Linked DNA regions of Homo sapiens. The protein of the gene in region 3 purifies or fractionates together with the protein of the main gene of each other region. This does not show direct contact. Each region holds a gene or a part of one and is shown on either strand. Other genes may lie near its edges.

Region 1 (3,656 bases), on a different chromosome or scaffold from region 3:
GCCCCACTTTCTCTGTCTAGTCTTGTATTATCTGACTCAATACTAGTTTCATTTCACTGTCCACCTATACCATTGCTCTTTGATTTTCTTGGGCTTCTGGTCTTCTTATTCCTCCTTAATTTGAACTTACTAATTATATTTCAGTGCAAACACCTGACTACGTTGTTATTTCCCTAGTTATAATCACATCAAGCACTTGCATTTTGAAACACTACTTTTAAAATAAATAACTTTTTTGTTTCTACATTATACCATTAAATTACATTTAAGGGAATTATGTTGATTTTCAGAATGTGCATGAGTAGGTTTTATTTTCTAGATACTTCTTATCAGGAAGTATTTGTTAATAACAGGAGGCACTGGGTCTGATAGAATTAAAAATTAATTAGAAGCCATAGAAGAGGACTGAGCAAGTGTCTTGAGGAAACTGATGTGGCAGCAGTATGCAAGAGGACTTAAATGAGAGAGTTATTTTTTTTTTGTAAATAAATGACTAGGAAAATGAATGAACCACTAATAAGAAAAAAAACCAGAGTCCATTTTGTGAAGAAGATGTTAAGTATTACCTTAGATATATAGAATTTCCATTATTATCACCAAGCATTAATTGCATACATGCTGAATATAAAGTAGTGTGAGAAAGGGCCCTTATTCTAAAGCTGGGGAGATAAACCAGAGACTTCAAAGGAGAAAATATCAGTTACTCAACATCAAATGAGTGGAGCACTTTCTGAAACCAGGAGCCTCACTCCACCCCTCACTCCCATGCCTTGAGATTTGGACGTGCCTCCTGAACAATGAAATGAGGCAATGGCATATAATCAATACAAGCTCCTCGAATGATGCAACACACTTTGTGATATTCTGTGACAAGGTGAAGGCAGAGGGACTATGCCACCTGAATGGCTCTCACGATGATGAGTGTGAGCCAAGAGAAGGGCAAGGAACATGGAATGAGGGAGAAAGACCACTACTGATATTCCTACAAGCTTGGGCATCCTACTTACCTGGGACCTGACTGGGTTAAACACAGGCACTACAGCCTTGTCTCTGGGGTTTTTTTCCTGGAGATGAGCTGATCCGTGGGGAACAGGCCCTGCAGAGAGAGAGGGCAAGAGTCCTAAATGAGACATGATGGCCTTTAGGGTACCCTTTTTGGAGACCCAGCCTTTTCCCCCAAATGTTATGTTTGTTAAACATTCAAGAACTAAGACGTAGATTTTACAGTGTGAGAAAGAGCATCACAACTGCTTTCATTCTGTCAGAAATTCTAAAATTCTACAACTTTAGGGTCTCTCACCCAAAAAATGGAGTGGGATTTATGAACTCATAAGGTGCTTTACAGTCATGCACTTTCACATAAAGAAAAAATAAAAATCATAGACAAAAATAAAGGGGAGGAAGAAGCTGGTGATAAAGGAAGGATCAAGGAGAGAACACAGAGGCAAAAGAAAGGATGTAGAGAGTAGAGAGATGAGACTGAGGGGAAACAGGAAAGCAGAAGAAAGGAAGATGGAGAGAGAGACAGGAAAATAAAGATATTTAAAAAAATAGAGAAGAGATGTTAGCCATGAACTAGAAAAACTGTTAGGAGGTACTGATCCCAAAGAACCAACAATAATCAAAATGGTGATGATGACTGCACAAGGCCAGCCACTGTGCTGTTACTTTAAAAGATTATTTCCAATCCTCAAAATAATCAAGAAGGTCCAAATTATTGCCTCCAAAATCCTAGGCACATTCAGAAGAATCACAGCTGAGTGCAGAGTACACACAGAGATCAAACAGATAATTGTTGATTAACTGAATAACCTATTAAATGACTTGCCTAGGTCACAAAGTTGGCAGTTGGCAGATGGCAGAGTACAAAATTATCAAATGAAGAGCACATGTGGTAATTCTAACCCAAAAATATAAAACAGAACATCACTTTTCTTTGCTCTGCTTTTCTTTGCTTCCATAATGGATCACTATGGAATGTTTTTATTGCTGTTGTTGCATTTCTAGAAGGAATAAAGTTTGCTGGAAAAAAACAGCCTTGCCCCGATTCACTTTTACTATTATATGTACTTGTCCACAACACATACATACTAAATAAACCAGCTTAAAATGCACAGTGTAAAATAAAGCAGGTCTTTACAAGTTTGTTCAGATACAGGGTTAGACAAAAAAATAAAACTTGATGTTGGTCACAGGGTATAAACTTGCAGTTATAAGATGAATAAGCTCTGAAGACCTACGTACAGAATGCTGACTATAGTTAGTAATAATAATATATTGTATACTTGAAATTTCATGAGAGTAGATCTTAGGAATTCTTACCACAGACACATAAAAGGTAACTGTGAGATATGTAAGTTAGCTTGTGGTAATCATTTCACAATGTATACAAACTTGAGGTCAAGAAGGCTGTGCAAGTGTCAGTGGCCAGCTCCCAGCGTCCTCACTAAACTCACTCGAGCACTCACCACTCACTTCTTGGGGGTTCCCTTGAGGACGCTGTGGAGGTTCACACTTCAGGGTGGTTATCCCAGGCAGGAGCTGGAGGCTCTGACACTCCAAAGAGACTCCTTGATATTCTGCCACCATTGGGTGCATGTCCTGTCCCTGAATATAGACAGAGGCCTGGAAACAAAAGATTTATTTTGAAAGGGCATGCATATATGGACTGCATGCTAAGAGCCTGGCACTGTTCTACATGCTGGGGATACAGCAGCAAACAAGGCAGAAAAGACAGGCAAAGGATCCCAGCCCAGAAAAACAAAAACAACAAACAAGTGGATGTTTAAACTAGCTGGTGAAAATTTAATGAGGAACAGGATATGTACACCACCTCAAAATGTCTCCCACAGATTACTTAGTAATTACAAAGGGGAAAATGGTAACTTTCTAGTGGAGAAAATTGACAGGTACCACCATAACCTCATCAGTAATGGGACAAATCATCACTACGCACCTCCTGAAGTAACGCACTGAGAACACAACATTACCTCTGTGGTATTCTAGCCAAAATGTGCAGCCTGAATCATGAGAAAATATAGGACAAACTCAAATTGAGGGATAGTCTCCAAAAAAACTAGCTGTACTCTTCAAAAATAACAACGTCATGACAAAGACAGCAGCTACTCCAGATTCACAGACTAGAGATATGGCAACTAAGTGCAATATGTGATGCTGGCTTGTATCCTGAATCACAGGAAAATTATCATAAAGAACATTATTAGGATAACATGGCAAAATATGAATAAGGACTAAGGTTATATGATAGTATCGTAAGTTTAATTTCCCTAAACTTGATTTTTGTATTCTTGTGATACAAGAGAATATCCTCACTCTTCAGAAATACACACCGAATAGCCAGGTGCAGTGGCTCATGCCTGTAATCCCAACACTTTGGGAGGCCAAGGCAGCATGATCACTTGAGGCCAGGAGTTCAAGATCAGCCTGGGCAATATAGTGAGACCCCACCCCCGCTACAAAAAATTAAAAATAAATTAGCCAGGCATGGTGGCATGCACCTGTAGTCCCATCTACTCAGGAGCCTGAGGTGGGAGGATTGCTTGAGCCTTCCACCATTGCAGTTCAAGGCTGCAATGATGCTATGATCGTACCACTGCACTCCAGCCTGGTCAACAGTGAGGTAAAGGGATATAGTG
Region 2 (2,594 bases), on a different chromosome or scaffold from region 3:
GCAAGGAGAGCCTGCTCAGAGCGCACCCTCCTGGAGGGAGGGGCCCGGCTGCCAGCGAAGAGAGTGGGGTCAATAGCTAAGGCCAAACCCCCCAGCGACAAGCCCCCTGGCGACAGGCACCCAGGGCCCTCCAGCCCAAGTCCGCCTCTAGGTGTTCTTGTTGGTGTGCTGGCACAGAGCCTCCAATGGGGCAGAACGGCCACCCCCGGGACCAGTCATACACAGATCCTGGCAACTAACACCACTGCCGTTTCCACCGACCAAGTCTTGGGGTGGTCTGTCATGCAGCAAGAGACCATGGACGTAACTGGATTCCTGCCTCACTCAGACACGGTGGTGGGAGAATGGTGAAGCAGTCAATGCTGAGGTCTTTGCTGGGGCTGATGGCGCTGGGAGGGGCCCCCTCAGCCTCTGAAGAAAAAGCAAACCCCACCCGGCCCTAACACCAATTCAACCCAACCTCACCTGGGAGGCTGCTTCCTTGTGGATCTCTTTCCACCAACCGGAGTTCCTCAGTGTCCAGCCTGGAGGCAGCGTCAGGCTGGGAAAGCTGATACCCTGAGTGGGGTTAAAAACCAAAGAAATAAAAGGCATCAACACAGAGTGGCTGATGGGTGTTGTGTGTCGTGGGCCAGCCAGGGCAGGCTGCAGCCCACCTCCTCTTCTCTGTACTGGGACCCCCACCAAGGCCACCTCCCTGTTAGGCCCCTGGACAGTGGAGCAAAGAAGAAGGCGAGGCTGGAAGGGCAACGGGGCAGGCGGAGGCAGGACTCAGAGAAAGCAAAGCTAAAGAAAGACATTGACAAAAATTGCTCAGGAGTCTGAGTCGGGGGGCCTCCCTAAAAGGAGGGTTTCTGGGGCAAGAACGTCTACAAAAGAGGAGACCCTTGATCAGGCCATGCAGGTGAGGCCCTGTATCTGGCAAGGAGGGTGGCAATGTGGGCGCCTTGGGGCCAGGAGGCCTTTCCAAATTCCGAGGCTTCAGTCCTACAGGCAGGGCCTGGGCAGAACTCAGATGTTTAGATCAGAAAGGGTGGGGGCTTCAGCGAATAAATTCAAGCTCCAACACGTGCAAGTTCAAATCCTGTAAGACATCACAGTGTCCCAGCCAAAGTCCCTGGGGTCACAGTCTCCTGCACCAACCCCTGCGGAAGGGGATGGGGAGTGGGGCGTGACCCCGAGGCAGGCGACTCTCACCCCACAGGAGCAGCTTCCGGTAGCTCTTCAGGTTCTCCTCGGCAGGGTCCAGGTGGCCCCACTCCCCCAGGTGCTGAGGGTCCTCTGGAAAGGACTTCAGCTTCTGAAACATTAGTCGTGGCTGAGACCTCCCACCTGCCCTAGAGAAGGGAGGACCCGCCGCAGCCCCACAGCCACAGGAGCAGGCTAGGAGCCAGCCCTGGCCAGGGACTCTAACCCAGGTGCACTGCAGGAGGCAGCCCCCTTCGCACCACAAAGATTCCGCCCTCACGCTCCCACCAGGGTGGGTTCTGGGCCTCAGCGCTGTGGACGTTTGGGGCCACAGCCCTCTGCTGAGCACTGGTGATGGGGAGGGGGATGCCTCTAAGCTGAGGCCAAGGCCCCTCACCCACCTGCTCGTGCCCACCCACCTGCTCGGTGTTGGCAGGGCCGTCCTCTTCGGTCTTTGCTTCTCTGACCCTCCTCTGTTCCAGAAACAGGGGGTCCGGAGAAAGCCAGGCTGGGGAGAAGGAGAGGCAGAGCTGAGGCAATGAGCTCCCTGTGGCCAGGTGCCCTCAAGGGTCAAGGAGCCCCCGCTGCCTCCCACACAGGCCCCAGTGTGCTTCTGTGACAGCAGCACCCAAGGCTCAACGGACACTACACCTTTCCCTGATTTACAAAGCAGCGCGGTGGCCACAGGGCTTGGGTGGCCCCAGAGATGCCCATTCAAGTCCACTGGATTCATGGAAATCTTTTTTTTTTTTGGTTTGTTTGTTTTTTAAAGACAGGGTCTTGCTCTGTCACCTAGGCTGGAGTGCAGTGGCATGATCTTGGCTCACTGCAACCTCCACCTCCTGGACTCAAGCAATCCTCCCACCTCAGCCTCCCAAGTAGCTGGGACTAAAAGTGCGGACCCGGCTAATTTTTGTATTTTTTGTAGAGATGGGGTCTCCCTATGTTGCCCAGGCTGGTCTCGAATGCCCGGGCTCAAGTGATCTGCCCGCCTTGGCTTCCCAAAGTGCTGCGATTACAGGCATGAGGCACTGTGCCTGGCCTTCGTGGAAATCCTAAAAAGCAACACCACATAGTGCTGGGCTGTATCCAGGCCAGTGGGCACCTTCCGTGCTGGTAATGAACAGCCACAAAACTTCTGGAAAACCACATGGAAGTTTCTATTTTATGTGAAATGTCGAACTCACACACCACTTGCCCAGTGGTCCTGAGGAGTCCACCCACAGTGCCCAGAGCCTCACATATGGGCACACAAGTCAGGAGGTGTCAGGGCAGCTTCACTCCAAGGGGCAGAGAGCCCACCTCTAGGATGGGGATGGGCTGAGCACGCGATGCTGGGCAACTAAAGAACCAGACCCAACCACAGCCTGGGGGACCCACCCCTCGAACAGCAAGCACTCAGACAC
Region 3 (3,656 bases):
TTTCGGATGTTCTGACACAATGACAAACTGAGGCAAGACATTAAGCACTATATCATCTGCCAGTCTGTTTATAGGTGTACCCTCAATTCTTGAATGTTCTAACTTCTAGCAGCAGAATAACAAAAGGCAACCCTGGGCTTGGCCAGCTCAAACAGGAAGAAAGCAAGGTGCTAAGTACCCAGCCAGCATAGGCTCAGGCTGTGAAAGGCAAGGCCATGCTAGAGAAAAAGGGAGAAGATGGACCTGGTCTGGAGGCCTAACCAGCAGTCTGACAATGCATAGTGAAACTCCATGGGAAAAGATGACATGAACTTAGTTGAAAGAGGTTGGCAAATGCAAAATCAGGGCTGTAAAATGCAAGGGGAATAACCTTTAACTCCATGAAAACCAAAACTTGGATAGGGTCACACATCAAGATGATGATGATGCCAGGATCAGTGACAGCTCCTACTCAACTGCTAGGCTAATGGCCTCTAAAGTGGACTTTGCCATCCTTTGACCATCAGAGCCAAGGGAGTCTTACCAAGTCTGTTTGGGAACAGCACTGGCAGGTCTAGTTTCCTGACTTCCTGGCCAGGATTCCTGAAGTCCTTTTCATCCCTGTCTGCACCATCCACAGTGCCATCTTCTACCTCCGTGGGTTCCCCATTCTGGTGATTCAGCTCTCCAGCCTCAATATCACTTCCTTCTTGGCCAGGAACAGCATCGCTTGCCATAGGAGGTGCAGAGGCCCAGGAGCCTGAAAGAGCATTCATTTCCTCATAAAAGATACAAGGCTCAGGCACACGGCCTCTCCTCACTTTGCGGTAACTCAACTGTAGGCTTTTGAACTTGGTGCGACACTGTTCTGGGGTCCGCAGAAAACCCTGCTCCCAGAGTCCTTCCGCCATGGCCCTGTAGATCTGGCTGTTCTGCTGACAGGTCTGGAGTTTTCCATAAAATTGAGAACTACTAAGAATAGCCAGGAGCGTCTTGGTCTCTTCATAGCCCCAGGGCACACCTGTTGCTGGGGGACAAAGAATAGGTCAATTAGATCTGTCAGTTAGATCATGGAGGACTGTACATACTGCAGTGTGCAGTTTTGGCAGCTTAAAAAGTTACATCCTAGGCTGGATGCGGTGGCTCACACCTGTAATCCCAGCACTTTGGGAGGCCAAGGCGGGCAGATCATGAGGTCAAGAGATCGAGACCATCCTGGCCAACATGGTGAAACCCCGTCTCTACTAAAAATACAACAAAAAATAGCTGGGTGTGGTGCCGTGTGCCTGTAGTCCCAGCTACTCAGGAGGCTGAGGAAGAAGAATCACTTGAACCCAGGAGGCAGAGGTTGCAGTGAGCTGAGATTGTGCCACTGCACTCCAGCCTGATGACAGAGAGAGAATGCCATGCTCATGGGTAGGAAAAATCAATATCGTGAAAATGGCCATACTGCTCAAGGTAATTTATAGATTCAATGCCATCCCCATCAAGCTACCAATGACTTTCTTCACAGAATTGGAAAAAACTACTTTAAAGTTTATATGGAACCAAAAAAGAGCCCGCATTGCCAAGTCAATCCTAAGCCAAAAGAACAAAGCTGGAGGCATCACGCTACCTGACTTCAAACTATACTACAAGGCTACAGTAACCAAAACAGCATGGTACTGGTACAAAAACAGAGAAATAGACCAATGGAACAGCACAGAGCCCTCAGAAATAATGCCGCATATCTACAACCATCTGATCTTTGACAAACCTGACAAAAACAAGCAATGGGGAAAGGATTCCCTATTTAATAAATGGTGCTGGGAAACCTGGCTAGCCATATGTAGAAAGCTGAAACTGGATCCCTTCCTTACACCTTATACAAAAATTAATTCAAGAAGGATTAAAGACTTAAACGTTAGACCTAAAACCATAAAAACCCTAGAAGAAAACCTAGGCATTACCATTCAGGACATAGGCATGGGCAAGGACTTCATGTCTAAAACACCAAAAGCAATGGCAACCAAAGCCAAAATTGACAAATGGGATCTAATTAAACCAAAGAGCTTCTGCACAGCAAAAGAAACTACCATCAGAGTGAACAGGCAACCTACAGAATGGGAGAAAATTTTTGCAATCTACTCATCTGACAAAGGGCTAATATCCAGAATCTACAATGAACTCTAACAAATTTACAAGAAAAAAACAACCCCATCAAAAAGTGGGCAAAGGATATGAACAGACACTTCTCAAAAGAAGACATTTATGCAGCCAAAAGACACATGAAAAAATGCTCATCATCACTGGCCATCAGAGAAATGCAAATCAAAACTACAATGAGATACCATCTCACACCAGTTAGAATGGCAATCATTAAAAAGTCAGGAAACAACAGGTGCTGGAGAGGATGTGGAGAAATAGGAACACTTTTACACTGTTGGTGGGACTGTAAACTAGTTCAACCATTGTGGAAGTCAGTGTCGCGATTCCTCAGGGATCTAGAACCAGAAATACCATTTGACCCAGCAATCCCATTACTAGGTGTATACCCAAAGGATTATAAATCATGCTGCTATAAAGACACATGCACACGTATGTTTATTGCGGCACTATTCACAACAGCAAAGACTTGGAACCAAGCCAAATGTCCAACAATGATAGACTGGATTAAGAAAATGTGGCATGTATACACCATGGAATACTATGCAACCATAAAAAATGATGAGTTCATGTCCTTTGTAGGGACATGGATGAAGCTGGAAACCATCATTCTCAGCAAACTATTGCGAGGACAAAAAACCAAATACCACATGTTGTCACTCATAGGTTGTAACTGAACAGTGAGAACACATGGACACAGGTAGGGGAACATCACACACGGAGGCCTGTTGTGGGGTGGGGAGAGAGGGGAGGGATAGCATTTGGAGATATACCTAATGTTAAATGACGAGTTCATGGGTGCAGCACACCAACATGGCACATGTATACATATGTAACTAACCTGCACTTTGTGCACATGTACCTTAAAGCTTAAAGTATAAAAAAAAAAAAAAAAAAAGTTACATCCTGGTTTCTCAAACCGTGCCACAACTGGCTATTGTTATTTCTAGGAAGAAATCTCACTGTGGCTTTTTGTCTAAAACATGAAAACTTTTAGTATAATACAAAAGACATTCCCTCCACTGATAATGACTTATAGGGTTATTTACTAAAGCTGCCTATTTAATTTCTCGTTAATTATCCTCAATCCTACTCATTCCTCCTGGAGAGGTGGCTGGCAATAAGGGTAGTGGCTTGCCTGCCTTGACAGTTGTGGGACTTCCTGAGGGTGGCCACATAAGAGGACACAGTGAACAGGTGATACTCAAGGAAAGCAAAGATTCAGGGGACAGAGGAGCTGGTTGTAACGATATATCTGCCTGTTCCCTCCCTGATACAGGAATACCTCCTCAGCCAGCCCATCTCTATCTGTTTATATCTCCTGTCATCCTTGTAGATACAGGAAACTAAATGACAGCAGTTAACACACCAAGGTAAGAATAAGTAGTAAACATCTGAGAAGAGCAGTTCAGGATGGCTGGCTACTAAATAACCCTCACCACACACACCTGCTGCCCATCTGGGCCAGTTCATGAGGACCGATTTGACTAGAGCTGTCCCAGCAAGTGCATTCCAACATCTGGTCATGATGC

The links.
Region 1: the proteins of ZSCAN32 (region 3) and PGBD1 purify together in Homo sapiens (affinity purification with mass spectrometry; 3 studies listed by BioGRID and IntAct, with this or other methods). This does not show direct contact.
Region 2: the proteins of ZSCAN32 (region 3) and ZSCAN18 purify together in Homo sapiens (affinity purification with mass spectrometry; 3 studies listed by BioGRID and IntAct, with this or other methods). This does not show direct contact.

The regions. Positions count from the first base shown.
Region 1 is NC_000006.12:28,284,520-28,288,175, reverse strand, and holds part of PGBD1 (piggyBac transposable element-derived protein 1), read right to left. Parts: intron 2,626-3,656; coding exon 2,469-2,625; intron 1,097-2,468; coding exon 1,008-1,096; intron 1-1,007.
Region 2 is NC_000019.10:58,085,709-58,088,302, forward strand, and holds part of ZSCAN18 (zinc finger and SCAN domain-containing protein 18), read right to left. Parts: intron 1,697-2,594; coding exon 1,608-1,696; intron 1,301-1,607; coding exon 1,198-1,300; intron 559-1,197; coding exon 466-558; intron 1-465. UniProt on the Homo sapiens protein: May be involved in transcriptional regulation.
Region 3 is NC_000016.10:3,383,936-3,387,591, forward strand, and holds part of ZSCAN32 (zinc finger and SCAN domain-containing protein 32), read right to left. Parts: intron 1,007-3,656; coding exon 524-1,006; intron 1-523.